Linked DNA regions of Homo sapiens: region 1 is linked to region 2. A link means that fine-mapping ties the variant in region 2 to the plasma level of a protein whose gene starts in the linked region. Region 2 holds a variant in brackets. A gene starts in the other region. All regions are shown on their reverse strands. Region 1 holds the start of BCHE (butyrylcholinesterase). Region 2 overlaps NBEAL1 (neurobeachin like 1).

Evidence for each region. PIP is the posterior inclusion probability: the model's chance that the variant is causal. Protein levels are from antibody-based Olink assays in UK Biobank. Linkage for the fine-mapping came from a reference panel and not from the study's own genotypes, which makes the PIPs less certain.
Region 1: BCHE starts here. The variant in region 2 is fine-mapped to the plasma level of the BCHE protein (UK Biobank, PIP above 0.99).

The regions. Positions count from the first base shown.
Region 1 is chr3:165,833,181-165,843,329 of GRCh38, reverse strand. BCHE (butyrylcholinesterase) reads left to right here and starts at 5,907. Exons shown (of 4, transcript NM_000055.4): 1 at 5,907-6,016. RefSeq lists an enhancer at 5,795-6,089.
Region 2 is chr2:203,118,389-203,128,537 of GRCh38, reverse strand. NBEAL1 (neurobeachin like 1) reads right to left here. Exons shown (of 56, transcript NM_001378026.1): 19 at 6,195-6,284; 20 at 3,018-3,186; 21 at 2,445-2,578; 22 at 1,822-1,981; 23 at 1,612-1,714; 24 at 601-757. Among named protein-coding and RNA genes, the nearest start is that of NBEAL1, 110 kb to the right of the region's middle. The variant G/A (reference allele first, on the strand shown) is at 5,707.

The sequences.
Region 1 (10,149 bases), not on the chromosome of region 2:
TGACATTAAAATTTACCCTTTGCTTTAGTTATAAAATTTGGATTGAAATATGTGTGGTTTCTCAAGAATATCACCTATCCAGTTTTCCTTCAATCATACATCTAGTGATCTTAACACCAATTGTTAATTCTTAACTGAATGAGTATATTCATCAAGGTATGAAAATTTTTTTCTGCTGTGTTATTCCTTCTACATATATTAGTTGTCTTTCTTCTTTAAATTAGAGTTGTTCCATAATAACAGGGCTTTTCCTCACAAATAGTCTTGTATTCTATTACCAGATTGTTGATTGAATTCACTTATTATATTTACAGCCAGAGAAAAGGGAATGTTCGTAGATCTTACCAGAGTGTTAAGGGATAAAGGACATTGGTACTACAAATAACTGAAATAATTCAGAAAAAATAATTTGTAAATGCACATATTTTATCTCATGTATAAAGGAAGACATAACTGAAAATGGCTTAAAATATTAACACATGGTGAATCTGAGTAAATATTATATAGAAGTTGTCTGCACTAATTTGAAAATTTCCATAAATTTAAAATTGTACAGAAATAAAAAGTTACTTTTAAACACCTGAAATATGGGTGGTAACAGTTATAAGCAAATAAACTAAAAATAGTACATTTTTATCAAATGAAATGACAAAAGATATGTAATAATAAATTGCGTTTTTGAGCATGAGAACAACATACACTTTCCTAGACAGCTGGTGAGAGTATAAATTGCTGATGTTTTGTGAAGGTAGTTGGTTGATATGTCTTAGCCATAAAAGCATAGATAACCTTTTGAAGAATTCTGATTTAAGCAATTATTCCATAGAAAATAAGAAATATTTAAAAATATTTATAATTACTAAGTCCATTTTTATGTTACTATTTCCAGGAAAAATTTAAAATAGCCTTCATATACAATAAAAGCAAGTTAGATAAATTATATTGTACTTATACAAATAATTAATACATAGGCATATAAATGAAGTTAAAAAAATATTCGATAGCATTATTTTGGAAAAACTTAAGATAGGTTATATGAAAGTAGGCTACCAAAGACTATGTATGATGTATTTCCAAATTAGCTTGAAGCAAAAGGTACAGTTGTGCATGAGAATAAGCAATTAAAAAAAAGAAAAAGCATATATATATATATGGTAGCACAAAAATGTCCTTAGTATCCAAGCTCCAGGACTTTGCCTCTTAGTGTGTAGTTTGTGAACTCCCTCTATCAGCTTCACAGAGGACAGTAGTATAACGCTGTCCTCAAGTCTACTGAAACCAAAGCCCAGGGATGTGGCCTAGAAATCTGGATGTTTAAATAGCACTTTGATGAATTTGATAATGTGTTACTTTGCAATTTTTCTGAGAGTGAGACTCCAAAGATAGTCAAGGGTTTGGGAAGAGTAAATTTAAGCCAATTCAGTAAATTAGGTGATAAACAAAGAAGCTTGCTGTTTTTCTCTCTTTTTTTATGTTTTAAAACAATGAGTTTCTCCTTTTTTGCTCAAGCCCTGAACAATTTAGTTCAGAATTTGTTTTCTTACTTTGATTCTGCTGGCTTTGCCAATTCCATGAAAATCCACTTGGCACCACATTTCCTTAGAAGCTCTTGCTTTTTCTTGATTTTCTTTCTGTTCTTAGAGTCTAATATTCTAGTGTCTCACCAAATTGTTGTTGTCTCTTTCCAAAACTCCTTTAACCAAACTATCTGTATCTTCATGTAAAAGGCACCACAGACCTCCCATCACTCACTCTCCCTTAACCCCAAAATATCTATGTGTTATCCCTTACAGATGTCACTTCCTGCAAGGCCTTCCATATTAGTTGCTACAACATCACTAAAGAATTTTATTACCTGTGGCTCTGGACCTACTTCTAATATCTCTGGAGATATCCACCTTCAAACACCTGCCACATCCAGCTATGAGGGTCTAGTACCTGGGCTCCAGAGACATGTTCAGGTTAGTTCTGATTATAAGAACATTTCTCTTTTTTGCCAGAATTGTTGGAAAGTTATCTCTATTCAACAGTCTGTGTAGGATTTCAGAAGATTGAATATACATATAAATATATATACATACACACATGTATATATACACACACACATATATGTATATGTACTTTGTCCATGTCGTATTTGGTTATTCCAATTCTGGGAAAATAAATTAAGAAAATAATTAAAAGATGCACTCAAATATCGATATACAAAATGCCTATTGTAATAATACATAAAAAAAGTCAGAAGCTAACCTCGGTATCTGTATGATTTGGAGCAAGTTACTTAAACTCTTTGTGGCTATATTTTCTCAAATGTAAAATAAGGTTAATAATAGTGCTTATTTTAAAGGTAGTCATGAGTTTTAAATGAATTCATGTATTCAAAGTGGATAGAATAGTGCTTTCAAATAATATTTATTACCTAAAATTATTATTATCATCATATAAGTAACAAGAGATACAATGAACCATAATATGCCCATATGATAATATATCACACAGTAATCAAAATATTTTAATAGGAAATTAATATCATAAGATAAAAAGCAAGAAGAATGATGATAAGCCATTTGACTACCACTATATTTATCTATGTAACTATAACCACATACACATATTTTAAAAAATTGATTGGAATATACAAAATGGTCTTTTCATTCTCTGTGATATGTAAAATGTAGAAATATACTTTTCTGGGCTGGATGCAGTAGCTCACACCTATAATCCCAGCACTTTGGGAGGCCGAGGTTGGTGGAGCACCTGAGGTCAGGAATTCGAGACCAGCCTGGCCAACATAGTGAAATCCTGTGTCTACTAAAAATACAAAAATTAGCCAGATTTGGTGGTGGGTGCCTGTAATCCCAGCTACTCAGGAGGCTGAGGCAGGAAAATTGCTTGAACCCAGGAGGCAGAGGTTGCAGTGAGCCGAGATCCTGCCACTGCACTCCAGCCTGGGCGACAGAGTGAGACTCCATCTCAGGAAAAAAAAAAAAAAATCTATCTATCTATCTATCTATCTATCTATCTATCTATCTATCTATCTATCTATACTTATATATACTTTTCTTTGTTATCCATATTCATTTCAGAGAATGCAGTGCTATTGTAAAAAAAATGAATAAAATTAATATAAGTTTAGAGCACTTTTTTGGCATCAGTATGCCTAAGGAAAACTAATGTATAATACAGGATTAATGTTTTTCACACCATCTCAAATCTTACTGAATGCTGCTATCTAGAAAACAGTGGTAACTGAGTTACAATGGGACCTTAAAAGCAAAAAACCACTGTGACTGGCTAACTGAAAGTGATCATAGAGCCAAAACCATAATGATTGTCCTGCCCAAGCTTCAGCATATATGGTTGCAAAATGTGCGCAGTGTTAATGCCGTGTCAAGTGTCTTGTGGTATTTCATCAGTGTCGCTTACAAGGCATACTCAACATTTAACAGCAGGATCATTAACCATCCATGCTGTGATGTAATGGAATAGTGCTTCCCTACTAACCCTGAAACAAGCTCACTGTGTGTGACCTACATCCTTCCGCTGGATGAGTGTGAGAAAATGATGACACCACAGAAGCAAAGCAGCTGCTGTAAGTTGAGCCACAAGGAAGAAACTCTCAAGACAGGAAGAATAAATGCTTTAGAGGTGCACTAAAATAATGAATGAACTAATGTGGCATAGCTGTGAAATCATGCGAGGAAAAGAACTACAGGGACAGTAACAGAAGGTGGTTCTTTGAAGTAAAGACATTGAGAAGAAGAAAAATTGCCAACTTGTGTAATCAGTTGATGTTGCTAGTTAGCCAGTTTAAACATGCGTTAAAGATAAAGATCTGCTTGAAACCAATTATTTTATTGTTTGGCTTCCTGTTTAAAGATGAAAATGAAATATGTGTATATATGTGACATATTTTACCTAGCAGTGAGTAGATGCAGGAAGCATGTAAAATGCTTTGCTGAATTCACTAACGTCACAAAATATTCCTTAATAATTGCCGCGTTTGATAGGCTGACCTTATGCTAGCACAGGAAACAATGCAGTGGACTTGGGTTGGAGAGAAGAATTTTGACATTTGGATTTTTAAAAATCATGTATATTGAACCCATGAACTCTCATGTGGAACATCAGATTTACTATATTTTAAACAGAAATGCCATCACTATAAAAACCATTGCAAATTTGTCAATATACTTCCATTTAAAAAGCCTTTTCCTGCTTTTATTGATTTATTGATTAATTTTTTTTTGAGACAGGATCTCACTCTGTCACCCACGATGAAGTGCAGTGGCACAATCGTGGCTTGCAGCCTCGACCTCCTAGGCTCAGGTGATACTCTTACCTCAGCTACCTCCCAAGTAACTGGGAATGTAGGCTTGCACCACCATGTCTGACCCATTTTCTTGCAGAAATTGAGTTTTGCTATGTTGTCCAGACTTGTCTTGAACTCCCAGACTGAAGCAATCCGCCCACTTAGGCCTCCTAAAATGTTGGGATTACAGTCATGAACCACTGTGCTCCACCTCCTTTTTCTCCTTTTCAGATAGATTATGTATTCTGTACCTTTTGTGTAACTAACTTGTTATTACATAAACTATATTCTAAATACATTATAAATTATTGTGATCATGATATTTATCATTGAATTAACACTGCCTAAGTAGCAATTTTCACAGAAAAGATAATTTTAAAAGACCAAAATGGTTATTCTCTTGGAAGCAGTTGACATAAAATAACAGAATAATACAGATTAAAATTCTGTTTTCCAACAGCTACTAGTGGTAAGAAATATAGTAAGCTTCTGATTTGTAGAAACCTTAGCTTTCTCATCTGATGAGGTGGTTAATAATATTAACTCTCATATTTGCTGAAATAATATAAAATATTTAATATAAATTGTCAATTATAATGACTGGCATAAGGTAGAATTACAACAAATGCTAATTATATTTGCTTGTTTGAAAATTTAACACTCTATTAAAAGGCAAAAAAGTGCTCACCTGCAAATATTAATACATGCCTTCTGTTTAGTCCATAGAAAGCCCACAAGTAAGAGATTCAAAAGTGAAAGCTATCACTTACAGAAGATTAAGAATATATTGCATTGAGAAGATAGGGATTAAGGAGTTTATCAAAGGTTTTTTAAAAAATTATTTTCCTGAACATCATTTCAAGAAAGATAAGCGCCAAAGACATAAATATATTCTCCAGAGCATGTGCACTGCAAGTTGACAAATGTGTCTCTTTTATAGAGTTTGGTGAAGGTTATTCATTTTATTTTTCCTGTCTTGACCAGAAAATTGTGGCTTCTCATCATGTATGACTGCCTGCAGGGTCTTCTGAATAGGAAATTACCAATGCTGAAATTTGTATGACTTAAATAAGTGTTGAAGTGTGGGGGTTGAAAGGAGATACATATCAGAGACATCCATTCAGTTAATAGAACTAAGTTTTTGATTTGCATAGCTTATATCTAGAGCATTGTGTTTCTTATTTTCTATATTACTATCTTCTCTAACTATATAATTAGCACAGATTGAAGCTATAATGGATTTCAATAATAGCACTACTTTAGAATGATGTATACGTCTTTAAATCTTAAGACAAGCATAGGAAATATGTATATTCTTAAAAAAAGGAAAATTTTTTTAAAGTTTAGAGTTAAAAGAAACATGCATTTTCTGTTACATTTCAGATTATTTTAGTTAAAGAATCTTCTATGCTTTTTTTCTTCATTCTTAGAAGACTACCTGCAATTGTAAAGCATGAATCCTGTAATACTTCTGTAAATGAATCACTATTGCATTTATACCATTAGCCTCTGAACAGATTTCAAGTTGCTGCTGCCAACTCTCGCGAGCTTTGTCAGTAACAGTTGATTGTTACATTCAGTAACACTGAATGTCAGTGCAGTCCAATTTACAGGCTGGAGCAGCAGCTGCATCCTGCATTTCCCCGAAGTATTACATGATTTTCACTCCTTGCAAACTTTGCCATCTTTGTTGCAGAGAATCGGGTAAGTTGCTCTGAATTTACACCTTCGTGTAGAGATCCAAGTTACTGTAAAGCTCATTCTGTGGGATGAGAGTGATCTCTTCATGTGTTTGTTGTGTCCCTTTGGTGCTCTGTGGGGAACAGTTACTGAAGCTTGCAAATGGGACAGAGGAAGTGAGCCAGCAGGCACATGCATCAAATCTTCCTATTATTCAGGGAACGCAGACTTTGTTTATTTAACTGCTGAGAAAATAATGAATTTATTCAACTCTGTATAAAGGACCATAGCACGTGTGGAATCACTGTGATATATATTCTTAGTGAGTTTCCTAAGAAAAAACATTTCATACTGGCTTACCCTTAAATGCATTGTTTATTGAATCTCTCTGTAAAAGTAATCTTTGATTAGTCTTCCTTTTTTTTTCTTTTTAAATGGGATAAAGTTAGTAGTTAACTTACTTTTTCCTGAACAAAATACTTTTCTCAATCAACATTTTGTCACCTAAAACTTTAACAGTAACAACTGGCAAATGAGAGGTCTGTTTATTTTATGTAAATAAAAACAAAACCTGTTTTCTAATTTGATTTACAGTGATTTATGAGCGTGTCCCCTTTGCCCTTTGTGTTCACTTTTTATATGTTTGTTTAAATTGTAGCAAAATATTTTACATTTGCTATTATTTTACTATTATAGAAATAGTAAGCAAATGTACTTTCTGCTCATCCTATAATCTTGTAAAACTATTATTTTGATAACATCAGTTCCACTTTAACCAGGGAATTAAATATTAAGGATTATAAAATCTATGAATGACTAAAAGTAAACTGAAATGTGATTTCATTGTTTATGATTTCTATTTATTATATATTTTTATTTTATGAGTATGTCTTCTACATTTTTATGAATATATTTCATGATAATAAACTCAATTAGGAGCTCCTGTCACTAGTCTGTGTAATGCCTTCCTTAATATAAACTATCTCATAGTTACAATAAATACAATGACAGTTTACTTATATAAGTAGTTACTTTGTTTAAGGATAAGCGTGAGCTTTTAAAGTGTGACTTTAACATTTGAATAAAAATCTTCAGAATTTTCTCTGGATATAAAATAAAGTAGTCTTTTGGATGCCAAATAAATTTCTAATTGGGTTATCAAAGTTCTGTTTTGTTCTCCTAATTTTTTGTTGTTGTTGTTTGTTTGTATTGTCCTAGTTTTTTAATTGTAAAAATATGTTTGGGATGTATTCCATATTTCATTTTTATAAAACATAAGCTACTAATAGCTAAACAAGTCACATCTTATCTATAAATTTGGTTCCTTCTTCGAGTCATTTCTTGATAAGTATAATATATATTTACATTGAATATTATCTTCATTTCGATGGTTTCTTGCCAGCATCTGCTCATTCTTACCAAAATTAGACGGTCCCAGATGTTAAGAGAATTGTAATTGAATAGATAGCAACCTAAGAGGAGATTTAATTTTCAGAGAAGACTCAAGAAATCTCTCTAATAAATGTTCAAATTATTCACACAATGAAGTTTGCAAATGTTCTTCCTAATTGAGGACAGATAAAACATCTTAAGTTTCTTATATCTAATGTAGTGTCTTCTATATGTATACATGCCTAAAGCATAGCTGAAGAATCCCTGAAAGACAGTGATGTAGTCTATTTATAATCAGACTTCCTCAATTCCCCACTTCACTTAGTCTGCAACAAAACAAGCTTTTTAAGTTTGATATAAAGACGTCGTTGTTCCAATTTCTTCAAATACATTTAAGAGAGCTTGTTCTAGATCATATTAATATTATCTAGATGGCTCTTTCTCTACCATTTTAAGAGGGTTTATTTCCAAGTAGAAATAAATATTTATTTAATTGTAACTTTTTAAAAGATAGGGAAATTATACACAGGGAAAATATTTTGAATATTTGCTTGAACATCTTTTAAAAATTCTTGGCTTGTCCCTTATTTTGAAAATCTGGTTGATATTCAAGTATCCCAAAAAATAGCTCTTTATACAAATTATTTTATCACACTCACATCTTATAGTATAACATTTAGTATTTTTTGTTAAAATCAGCTAGGGAATATTAATAGTACTTTCAAAATTGAATTAAAAATACAAAAAAAGATTTGTCACCTTTTTTATTTGAAAGTTATTGTTATAACAGTTTAGCATTTTCAAAAATTGCCAGTAAATTTTCTTAATTCCAAACAAAAACTCAGTTCCTCAAAAACTCAAATTCCTCAAAAACTCAATTCCTCAAAAACTAGAATGGTCTGAATTCCAAACAAAAACTCCTGTCTTTATTTCCAATATTAAATACTATTTTGATAAGCAAATTGATCTAAATTCAGATACACAGCTGTATTTGTGAAAATGTGCCCCATTTTTATGATAATGTTTATGCTACTATGTTCTCTCAGAATCATGTGAGACAGTATCCAATTGCACCAGAATTTATTAAAAGAAAAACGATCAAACCTGCACGTTGTGCACATGTACCCTAAAACTTAAAGTATAATAATAATAAAATTAAAAAAAAGAAAAACGATAATGTTTTGTTGAATATCCTAATCATTAATAAAAATTTTGAGATATAGACTCAATATTTTTATTCTATTTTCATTTATTTCTCTTTCGATTGCTCAATTACATGATAAACATATCAAAATTTTTAAAGTCTTTTAATGGCAAAACTACAGAGTAGCATGTTAGAATAGATAATACCAGATTATAAAAAGGGCAAAGTGATGCTTATTTAAAAAATAAAGTACTGCAATTAAATATAAAAACATTAGCCTACAATACACTAACAGTATATGAACATCTGCATATTTTTATATTAAAGTACACATTAAATAATATGTCATATGACACTCTGCAACAATACATATGAGTTAGCATTATATTGTCATTTTTGCAATGAATGCATGCTTACAAGAATTGCTTTGATTGTTACCAATTACATTATTTGCAAGTTGATAACTCAGATATCATTATCGAAAAATTAAAGATTTTAATTCATACCATATTATTATATAACAAGACCTACTCAGCATAAAATATAAATATCAACATATAATAAATTTTGTATTAAATCAAGTTAAGTGACATGGGAAGATATTACAACCATTTAGATGTTATAGCAACTGTTTAACATAAACAATGAAACATCACATTTCATAATTACACAAAACACAAATACAGTTTTGTAGCAACTATAGTACTTGCTTTGCAATAATATAAACTGTTTGTAGAACAAGTTTGAAAACTATCAGAGACCAAAATTTATTTCAATTTGGTGTTTGGTTTCTAAAGACAAACTAATATTCAAATAAAATCAAGGAAAAAATAGATGGCTTTTGCATTAGACTTAGAAGAACATTGACTGAGCTAGGCAAGAGGGAGAATGGGTACAACCAGGGATGATGCAATTAATTTATTAAATTGCAGCTTAGAACGAACCGCCCAATCAGCTTTGCACCTTATTCACTTTTTCTTCCCAGAGGATGTTTTCAAAACAGAAAATAAAAAAAATCATACTAGCACTTTGTTTTTCTCCAGATGCTCTCCTGCATTTATTAAAGAGAAAAGGATTAGCGGTTATCAGAAAGAAAAAAGAACTGAAGCAGTAGAGTGCCTCTAAAACTTTGATTATGTCTGAAATGTTATTAGTGTCAGGTAACAGGAAACTTTAAGTCATTGTTATATTTTACTTATTTATTTACTGTGATTTATGATACAGTCATACAATACATAATGATGCTTCAATCAATAATGGTGGTCTTATACAATTATAATATAGTATTTTCACTGTACCTTTTCTCTGTTTACATACACATACAGTTACCATTTTCTAACAATTGCCTACAGTATTCAGGAACATGTTATACAGATTTGTAGCCTAGATGCAACAGCCTATACCATATAGCCTAAAGGTGTGGTAGGCTATGGCATCTAAGTTTGCGTGAGTACACTTATAATGTGTGCACAATGATTAGATCGCCTAACAATGCATTTCTTAGAATGTATCCCTGTCAATAAATGGCATATGACAAGGATACATTATATAATAGTACCTAAATTATATATAATAGTACCTAAATATCATGAATGTAGAAATGCTGCTAAAAATATATTTT
Region 2 (10,149 bases):
CTATGAAAACAGGCTTCAGAATTGCCAAAGGAAACATTTCCATATATTAAATTTTCTAGCTAATTGGAATATTAAATTACACTGTCATCTATTTTATGAAAAATTTAGTTAGTAGATAAAATTTACTTCTGGCCTGGCGTGGTGGCTCACGCCTGTAATCCTAGCACTTTGGGAGCCCTAGGCGGGTAGACCATTTGAGGTTAGGAGTTCAAGACCAGCCTGACCAACATGGTGAAACCCTGTCTTTACCGGAAAAAAAAAAAAAAAAAAAAAAAGGCAAAAAATTAGCTCAGTGTGGGGGTGCACACCTGTAATGTCAGCTACTCAGGGGGCTGAGGCAGGAGAACCACTTCTCCTTCTGGGAGATGGAGGTTGCAGTGAGTCGAGATCGTGCCACTGCACTCCAGCCTGGGTGACAGAGCGAGACTCCATCTCAAAAAAAAAAAAGATAAAATTTACTTCTTAAGTGCATAATATTGAATGTGACACTACACATATTTTACTCTCAAAATATTTAACTAGACACAAACATACGTTCAGAAGATGATGTAGCAACTCAAATGTTAAAAAGGAAAAGTAGATGTATCTTAGGCATAATACCTGTTCTTCTTCATTAGTAGCAGCTATGTACCCCATAATACTTTGTATCTCTTCATGAGATCCACCTTTGCACAGAAAATATTTAATTAGTCCATACAAAGAAGTCCTTATTGTTCGAATATCATCTAGAGATAGTTCATTATATTTACAACCATTCCTGAAAGACAAAACAAAGTATAAGAATTGAAATTTTAATTTTTACATTTCCTTTTTTCTGAGATGGAGTCTCGCTCTGTTGCCCAGGCTGGAGTGCAGTGGTACAATCTTGGCTCACTGCAACCTCTGCCTTCTGGGTTCAAGCGATTCTCCTGCCTCAGCCTCCTGAGTAGCTGGGATTACAGGCACACGCCACCACGCCCAGCTAATTTTTGTATTTTTAGTAGAGATGGGGTTTCACCATGTTGGCCAGGCTGGTCTCAAACTCCTGACCTCACGATCTGCCCACCTCAGCCTCCCGAAGTGCTGGGATTACAGGCGTGAGCCACCGCGCCCAGCCTAATTTTTACATTTCTATATTTTCTACATAAAAGAATTCATAGTGTTAAAAAAATATTTCCATGTAATTCTGAGATTCATAGTAACTTTGGCTTGCTTTTCTTTTTAAGGAAAATCTTCTGAGTTAAGAGTTTCAGTGAATAAAATAGCTTATGTGAATACAACACCCACTGCATAGCAGACATACTTTAAGTGTTTTACATTATTAACTAATTAACTTAATCCTCAAAACAACCAAAGGAGGTAACAGTTTTCTTATCTCCTTTCAAAAATGAAGAAACCCAAGCACAGAGAAGTTGAGTAATTTGCCTACAGTTGCACAATTAATGAAAGCCAGATTCAAACTCAGTGTATGCGATCCACTGTTCATCATTTTAACCTCCACTGTATCCTACCTCTCTCCAGTTAAAACATACTAGAATCGCTGGTAAAGAGAAAGTCTACAGTCTACACATTCCAATCAAGTAGCAGACAGAAAATAATATATCAAACTGAGAAAGAACAAGGGCATCATACCCATAATAAATCCTAAGTGTATCTAGGAGAAACTGCACACCATACTTCTTTCGGAAAACTCTCCTGCTGTCTTTAATGATGGTTGAAAGATACTGTATGTGACCTAAAATAAAAAGTTCAATGGTAAGTAATTCAGCTAAAATAAAGTCAATAGGTAGTTATAAATTTCTAAAACAACTATAAAATGTTTATCTGAAAGCCTGCTCTCACCGATTCGAAAGGGAAAATCTCCACGGTTCCAAATACGAAAGTCAAAGAGTAAATATTGATACATTTGTTGCAGGAGCTGCATATTTTTCTCTAATGATACTTGTTCAATTAGTAACTGAACTGCCATCAACACATTAACATCCATCAAGGTGCTTGGCACCTGAAACCAAACAGAAGAGGGTTTCATATAGTTCAGTTTAAATAACTGTCATTAAGTTATAATTTTAAATCATTAATCAGAACATCTACTAAGTATAAAAATAGAAAAACCCACATTAGAAAAATAAAAACTTAAGTATTGGTTTTTCTGATATTAGACCAGAATATATTCTCCTAGTGTCATATTCCTAAAATAGTCTTATATTTCTCAACATCCCAAATATCAAAGCTATCAAACAAGGTTGTATACATCAAAGATTATACACTATTACATAAAATAAGTATTTCTTGTATAAGATGATTCCATACAAGTTTTTAAAAGCTGCCTGTGAACAAATTATATCCATTAATATAATTCAAGTTGTAATAATCTTTAAAAATATATTTATTAGGAAGAAAAAATCCCAACATCAACTGCAAATCACAATTATTAGCTACATCAACACAATGTTAGACTGGCTCACCTTCTGAAGTAAAGCACCAAGAGTTGCAACTCCATGGGAGTGAATAAGATTGCCCTGGTTGATAGGATGTCTCTGAATAAAATGTTTCACAATTAAGATAAATGTTGCAACTAGGTTTCTCTCTAGTCTTGACTCTGTAGAATCAGGAACATATTAATTATCATAATTTCTCTAATCACTTTTATATCACATTTTCTATATCTTAATGCACACTGTTACACAAAGTAGAAATCTGGTTCAGCAGTCAGCTTCCAACGCTCTATTGTACAATAGAATCAGAAAAAGCAGCAACTATAATATTGTATATTTATGTGCACATATTTTCTCTACCACAAATTTAACAATGTGGTCATATTTCCACTAAGAGTATAAACTAAGGATACTGGAGATTAATCTGTCGTTTTTTGATGAAAGTATTATAAACTTTCTGAATGATATTAGTAAAAGTAGAAACAACTGCTACAGCTACAAATGGTTAAGTTTCTTCCTAATGACAGTAAAACATTTTCATTTATTTCTCAATTAATTCTCAAATTTCTCAATGACTATTTTGTGTTAATTTCATCTTAATACCTGAGGCCTTTGTGGAAGTCCATACGAGCCAATCTCCTTCAACAGGTGTTACTGATTCAGGAACTGTGCTTTCATTCTTTTCTTCAGGAATCTGTCCTTCACTAAAGTGGCTGATTTGTTCCAATAAAGGAAAGAGTACATTTAACCCACCTATGCAGTTTATGATATCCTAAAGGGAAAATTATAATGTTTAAATCTTATAAAAGGAGGACAATTTTGTCATTTAATATCTTCACATGTATGAAGTTATAATCTGCTAGATAAACCTTTGAGCAATGTACAGGATAACCTAAGCTGAAGGAATTTTTGTGTAGGAAGATGCTTTACAGGGCAGCCTCAAGGGTCACCATAATCAAAACTCAAGAGAGATCAGGCCAGACCATTTTTACTCCATCTTCATTTTCCAAATTTTAGGGATTTCGAACATAGGCAAATGAAACATAGCCCCATAAGTGGACTTTATAATGTAACTCCAACAATGGAAAAACAACTGTCACTAGGCAATTAGGCATAATAAACAAGAGAATAAACAATGAAAAAAAATGCATTTGGTGGTAGAAATATGACTGACTCCTCGACTTTTAGTTAACAAAAAGGTAGAGAGGGTATTTCAGGCAAAGTTCAAAGTTTTGGATATTTTGGGTAGCTTAATAAAATATTTTCTATATCTTTTGATAAGTTACTAATATCACTGGCTTCAGTTTCTTCATCTGTAAAATGAGGATAATAGTAACACCCACTTCATAAAGTATTGCAAGGATTAAGTAAGCTAATATATAAAAAGTGCAGTCTCTGACATACAGTCGATACCATACAAGGTTTGCTCTTATTATTAATTATTAAAGTGTTCTGAATTGCCACGTGGACATAACTTAAGTCTTCAAACAACCTCTTCACATTCTTTGCTTGTTTTCTTAGAAATAAATTTTATTGTGTATATTTGAGGTTTACAAAATAATGTTGTAGGATACACATAGATAATAAAATGGTTACTATAGTGAAGCAGATTAACATTTCTATCATTTCACATAGTTACTTTGTGACAAGAGCAGCTAAAATCTACTTATTTAACAAAACTCCCTAATAAAATGTAATTTTATTAACTATAGTCCTCATGTTTTACATTAGATCTCTGGACTTGTTCATCCTACATATCTGCTACTTTGTTGGGTTTTTCTTGTTTGTTTTTGAGACAGGGTTTCGCTCTGTCACTCAGCTGGAGTGCACTGGCCTGATCACGGCTCACTGCAGTCTCGACCTTCCAGGCTCAAGTGATCCTCTCACCTCAGCCTCCCAAGTAGCTGAGACTACAGGCATGTGCCACCACACTCAGCTAACGTGTGTATTTTTTGTACAAAGTTTTGCCATGTTGCCCAGGCTGGTCTCAAACTCTTGAGCTCAAGCAATTTGCCCGCCATGGCCTCCCAAAGTACTGGGATTACAGGTGTGAACCACTGTGCCTGGCCTCATATCTTCTACTTTGTTTTGACTGTTTGTCATACCAGTTTTGAAGAGCTCTTTGTGTAAATAAGTAAATTAACTTTTTGGAAGGCAAATATTATTTTACCAGTTGTCATTTAACTTTTTTGGTCTTTGATTTGGCTACAGTATAAAAATACGCCTTTCTCTTGATAATCTGTTGCTTTTTGATTTCCACATTAGCCAAAAGTCTAACTAGTTAATAATCCACATAGCTGTAACTCAGGCCACAAAAAAACGGCTTTGATTTTCAGGTATGTATGGTACATATAAACAGATTTCTATATATAAAATACCACATGGAATCAGCTTTGTAAAACCAGTCTTACAAGTAAAGCAAAAGTTAACTTATGAAGTGTCATTCATGTCATAAATCCTACTATGGTAACAGATAAAAAAAAGTGTTCTGGCCGGGCATGGTGGCTCACGCCTGTAATCCCAGCACTTTGAGAGGCCAAGGTGGGCGGATCAACTGAGGTCAGGAGTCCGAGACCAGTCTGTCCAACATGGTGAGACCCTGTCTCTACTAAAAAATACAAAAATCAGCTGGGTGTGGTGGCAGGTGCCTATAATCCCAGCTACTTGGAAGGCTGAGGCAGGAGAATCGCTTGAACCTGGGAGGCAGAGGTTGTAGTGAGCCGAGATCCACTGCACTCCAGCCAGGGCGACAGCAAAACTCTGCCTCAAAAAAAAAAAAAAGAAAAAAGAAAAGAAAAGAAAAAGAACAAGTGTTCTTATACCAAAATTAAGGAGAAAAATCCTTTATATATCATGAATAACATGAAATTAACACTAATTGATAGATTAATTTCTACATAGGCAAAATTATCTTAATGATTTCTTTTCACTGAAATAATAAACGTATTTGGTTGGTGTTAACTGATTAGAAAAGTTTTTTTTTTTTTCCTGATTTACCAGCAAGTCTTCTTATAATTATCTTTTATTTCCCTGATTTACCGGCAAGCCCTCTTATAATTATCTTTTATATTTCTTTTATTTAACTTAGGTTATAACTTCTATTTAAAATATCATTTAAGGAAACACTATATTTAAGAATTAAGCCTTTCTCACCCTAAACAACCTTTACTAATTTAATCACTCAGTCAACACTTATTTGTTGCATAACCCTGTACCAGGAACTGATTAAAAAAAAGAAAAAAGCAGTGACCCTTCCTTCAAAGTTCTTTTGGACTACTAGAGCATTAACCAA[G/A]CAGTTACTATTTGCCATGGTAAGTGAAATAATAAAGTGCTAGGGATACCCATAAGAGCAGTTTGGTCTTGGAAAGTAAGTAGAAGCCTCTAGATGGAAGCAAAGTTCCAGCTGTGACATAAATATGAGGCCAATGAAAAAGGAAAATAAGATTTGAGAACCCATACAGACATGGCAAAAACATTCAAACTCCACACAGACAGTTGCCCCTGCCAGGAATCAATTTTTTTCTCACTGACTTTATAATGAACGACATTATCCAAAGACCTGCTGTAGCTTACAAAGGTAACTATACTTCAAACCAAAGTCATTCAACTATGTTAGTCATTTAACTTTGCATTTGTTTACCCTTCAAATTGTATGTTTGCATAACCCTTTAACTGAGACCTATTATTTAGATCAATCTGGCAGTGCTTTAAAAACAAAATCCTTAATAAGAGTATCAGTAAATTATGTAAGATGTTGCCCAACATTTACTATTAATTTACCTTAATGTCCCAGTTCACTACTTTGTTTCCTGTTAATCTTCCATGCAAACAATTAGTAGATAAATCAAGACAGATTGAATTTTTGCAGGCCTAAGAATAAAAGAAAAATATGGCAAACAACCAATTAGAACAAAACATAAATTTAACCACATATAGAACATTTCACCATAATACAAAAAGGAATATAGGATAGTCAAAGATAAGATGCCCATAATATGAATTTTAGTATTGCTGTTCTGTTTTAAAAGAAAGAATCAGGGCCGGGCGTGGTGGCTCATGCCTGTAATCCCAGCACTTTGGGAGGCCGAGGCAGGTGGATCACCTGAGGTTAGGAGTTCGAAACCAGCCTGGCCAACATGGTAAAACCCCATCTCTACTAAAAATATAAAAACTAGCCGGGTGTGGTGGTGGGCACCTGTAATCCCAGCTACTCGGGAGGCTGAGGGAGGAGAATTGCTTGAACCCAGGAGACGGAGGTTGCAGTGAGCCGACACGGTGCCAATGCACTCCAGCCTCAGTGACAGAGTGAGACTCTGTCTCAAAAAATAAATAAAAATAAAAAAGAAAGAATCAGGAATTAGATTCTAAAGCACCCACTTAGAAAAGTAGGTCACTGCTACTTGTCATCTGACAGATGAGCTATAGGCAGAACTTGTTCGCCAGCCACAGTGATGTTTTTTTTTTTTTTTTGGAGACAGAGTCTCACTCTTGTCACCCAGGCTAGAGTGCAGTGGTGTGATCTTGGCTCACTGCAACCTCTGCCTCCCAGATTCGAGCAATTCTCCTGCCTCAGCCTCCCAAGTAGCTGAGATTACAGTGGTGCGCCACCACATCTGGCTTAATTTGTATTTTTAGTAGAGATGGGGTTTCACCATGTTGGCCAGGCTGGTCTCGAACTCCTGACCTCAAGGGATCCACCCACCTCGGCCTCCCAAAGTGCTGGGATTACAGGCATGAGCCACTGCACCCGGCCTCGCCAGTCATAGTTTTTAAATTTTTCTCTTTTAAACAAATACATGAAAACAGATTTTTTGCTTTAAAAAAATTCAATGTTTTATTTCCATTAGCACTTCCCTAGGCACAATTTCAAGATACACATAAAACGTGTGATTAAAATGAGAGATAAACCATAGAACAAAAAAAAAATCATAATATAAAAATACAATTACAGGCATAAGATACTATTTTCCCTCATGTTGTTGCCAGACAATTCTGGCTGCATTCAGAGTAAGAGCTTAGTCTGTAACTTTAGAAACAGTGTTATTTGCTAACCTCCATTCGTAAAGGCATGTTAACTTCATATTCAATCCGAATTTTCAGGTAATGCAGCATCCTTGAATCTAATCTAATCCCCATTCCAAAAGAAAGTAAACCTACAAATTTTAGCGCACATGATGTAGTTACTGCTTTCCTCTTAAACAATTGAGAAAAATTGCTTTAATCAAACAAATACTTAAACGTTATCCGTCTCCGAGACAGACACGTCTTTCTCTAGTTACTACTTTAGTCTGTAACTAAAAACTGTGTATCTATGACCTGTTTTAACAGAATAATCTCCTAATGGTATGACACTCTCTAGAATCCATTCCTCCAATCCAACTTTCACACTGCAGCTTAAGACCATTTCTAAAATGCGAATCCGATAATATTACTCTTCTGCTAAAAATTCTATCCATTGCCTATTATCTACTCTGACATAGGAGGTTTGCTCTAATGTGACCTTGCTCTCTAGTCTCATCTCCTCTTGCTCAGTGTCCTATACCCAAACACATGTAGAACCCAGTTTTACAGTCTATGCCTTTTTAGGTGATATTTACCATGCATCCCTGCTCAACCTTGTCTTTTAAAACACAAATGATACCATCTTCTTTATGATTTTCTAGCTTCCTGGAACAACAAACCACTCCTCATTTGTACCCTCACTATTAATTTGTACATTATTCCGTACATTATTCCAACAAAGAAATATTGTATATTAGTTAAGGATATAAATTAAACAGGCTGGGTTCTAACTCCAGGATTCAATGGAATTATGAGTCTAAGCAAGTTACTTATCTTACTGAGCTTCAGAAAACTAAAGCTTAGAAAAGATAACCAATAATACCATATACCTCTCAGGGCTTTTGTGAAGATTAAGTGAAACAATACACGTGAAATACTTAGCATAGTGCTTAACATATTGTTAACACCCCATAAATGGTAGCTAAAAAGAAAAATAAATGCTCATAAAGTTATGTTGAACTTATTTTTTAAAAAATTTATTTTGCTTTAGATTGTAAGCTTCTTACAGACAGAGACTTTTATTTATTTATCTTTGTATTGTAAGGGTATAGCATAATTCTTGGACTAAGAAGACATTCAATAAGTTTTAAGCAAATGAATGATTAAATACCTCCTACAATTGAGTACAAAAAAAACTGTTGACTATTTTAAAAATCCTCTGGAGCAGCTTTTCCCAAACTAGCATTTGTTAACAACTAAGTTATAATAACAAAATATGTTCTATGCTCAAATAGCTGGTGAAACAGTAGGACAAAACAAAAGTAAACTGGTTCCTTTATAGCAGAATTTTAAAAATGTATCACTAACCTCCAAGAGGGATATAAAGAATGCAACTGGGCCGGGCACGGTGGCTCACACCTGTAATCCCAGCACTTTGGGAGGCCAAGGCGGGCAGATCACTTGAGGTCAGGAGTTCGAGACTAGCCTGACCATCATGGTGAAACCTCGTCTGTACTAAAAATACAAAAATTAGCCAGGTGTGGTGGCGCATGCCTGTAATCCCAGCTACTCAGGAGGCTGAGGCAGGAGAATCGCTTGAACCCAGGAAGCGGAGGTTGCAGTGAGCCAAGATTGCGCCACTGCACTCCAGCCTGGCAACAGAGCGAGACTCCGTCTCAAAAAAAAAAAAAAAAAAAAGCAACAGGCCGTATGCAGTGGCTCACGCCTGTAATCTTAGCACTTTGCAAGGCCTAAGTGGGTGGATCACTTGAGCCCAGGAGTTCAACACCAGCCTAGGCAACATAGTGAGACCTTGTCTCTACAAAAAATCAAAAAATGGGGTGGGAGTATTGCTTGAGCCCAGGAGGATGAGGCTACAATGAGCCATGATTGCACCACTGCACGGCCACCTAGGTAATGGGAGTGATACCCTGTCTTTAAAAAAAAAAAAAATAGAATCCAACAGTCCCCCAAATTTATTTAACTATAGAGTCCCTGTCTCATGACATAGCACCATTTTGCAGAAACATTCCTTCAGTAATCTGTTTTATTGTATTTATCAATAGTCATATTAAGTTTCTTGGGGAAAAACAAGACAATAGCTATTTTTTTGGTAGTATAGAATTTTTTACTTTCAATGGTAAAAAAAAAAAAAAATCCAACTTTAATGTTAACAAATTCAAAGTTACTTTGTAAAAAGAATACGATGACCATAATGTCAAAAAGACCAGTCAGGCCCAGTGCGGTGGCTCATGCCTGTAATCCCAGCACTGTGGGAGGCCAAGGCGGGCGGATCACTTGAGGTCAAGAGTTCAAGACCAGCCTGGCCAACATGGTGAAACCCCATCTACCAAAATACAAAAATTAGCCAGGTGTGGTGGTACGTGCCTGTAATCCCAGCTACTTGGGAGGCTGAGGCAAGAGAATCGCTTGAACCTGGGAGGCAGAGGCTGCAGTGAGCCAAGATTGCGCCACTGCACTCCAGCCTGGGTGAGAGAGCGAGACTCCATCTCAAAAAAAAAAAAAAAGTTGGCTGTCACACATCCAGAACTTGCCACTAAATATACTGTTTGGATTATATGCAATTATTTCTTAGCTATCTATGCTATATAGTGGAGAATGAAAATAGGTGTAAGATACAATTCCTGCCAAGAAATAACATAAGATGTATTAAACAAACATGTATCTTTGGGAAAAAGAAGTTATACAAAGCAAACAAAAATATAAGACTCAA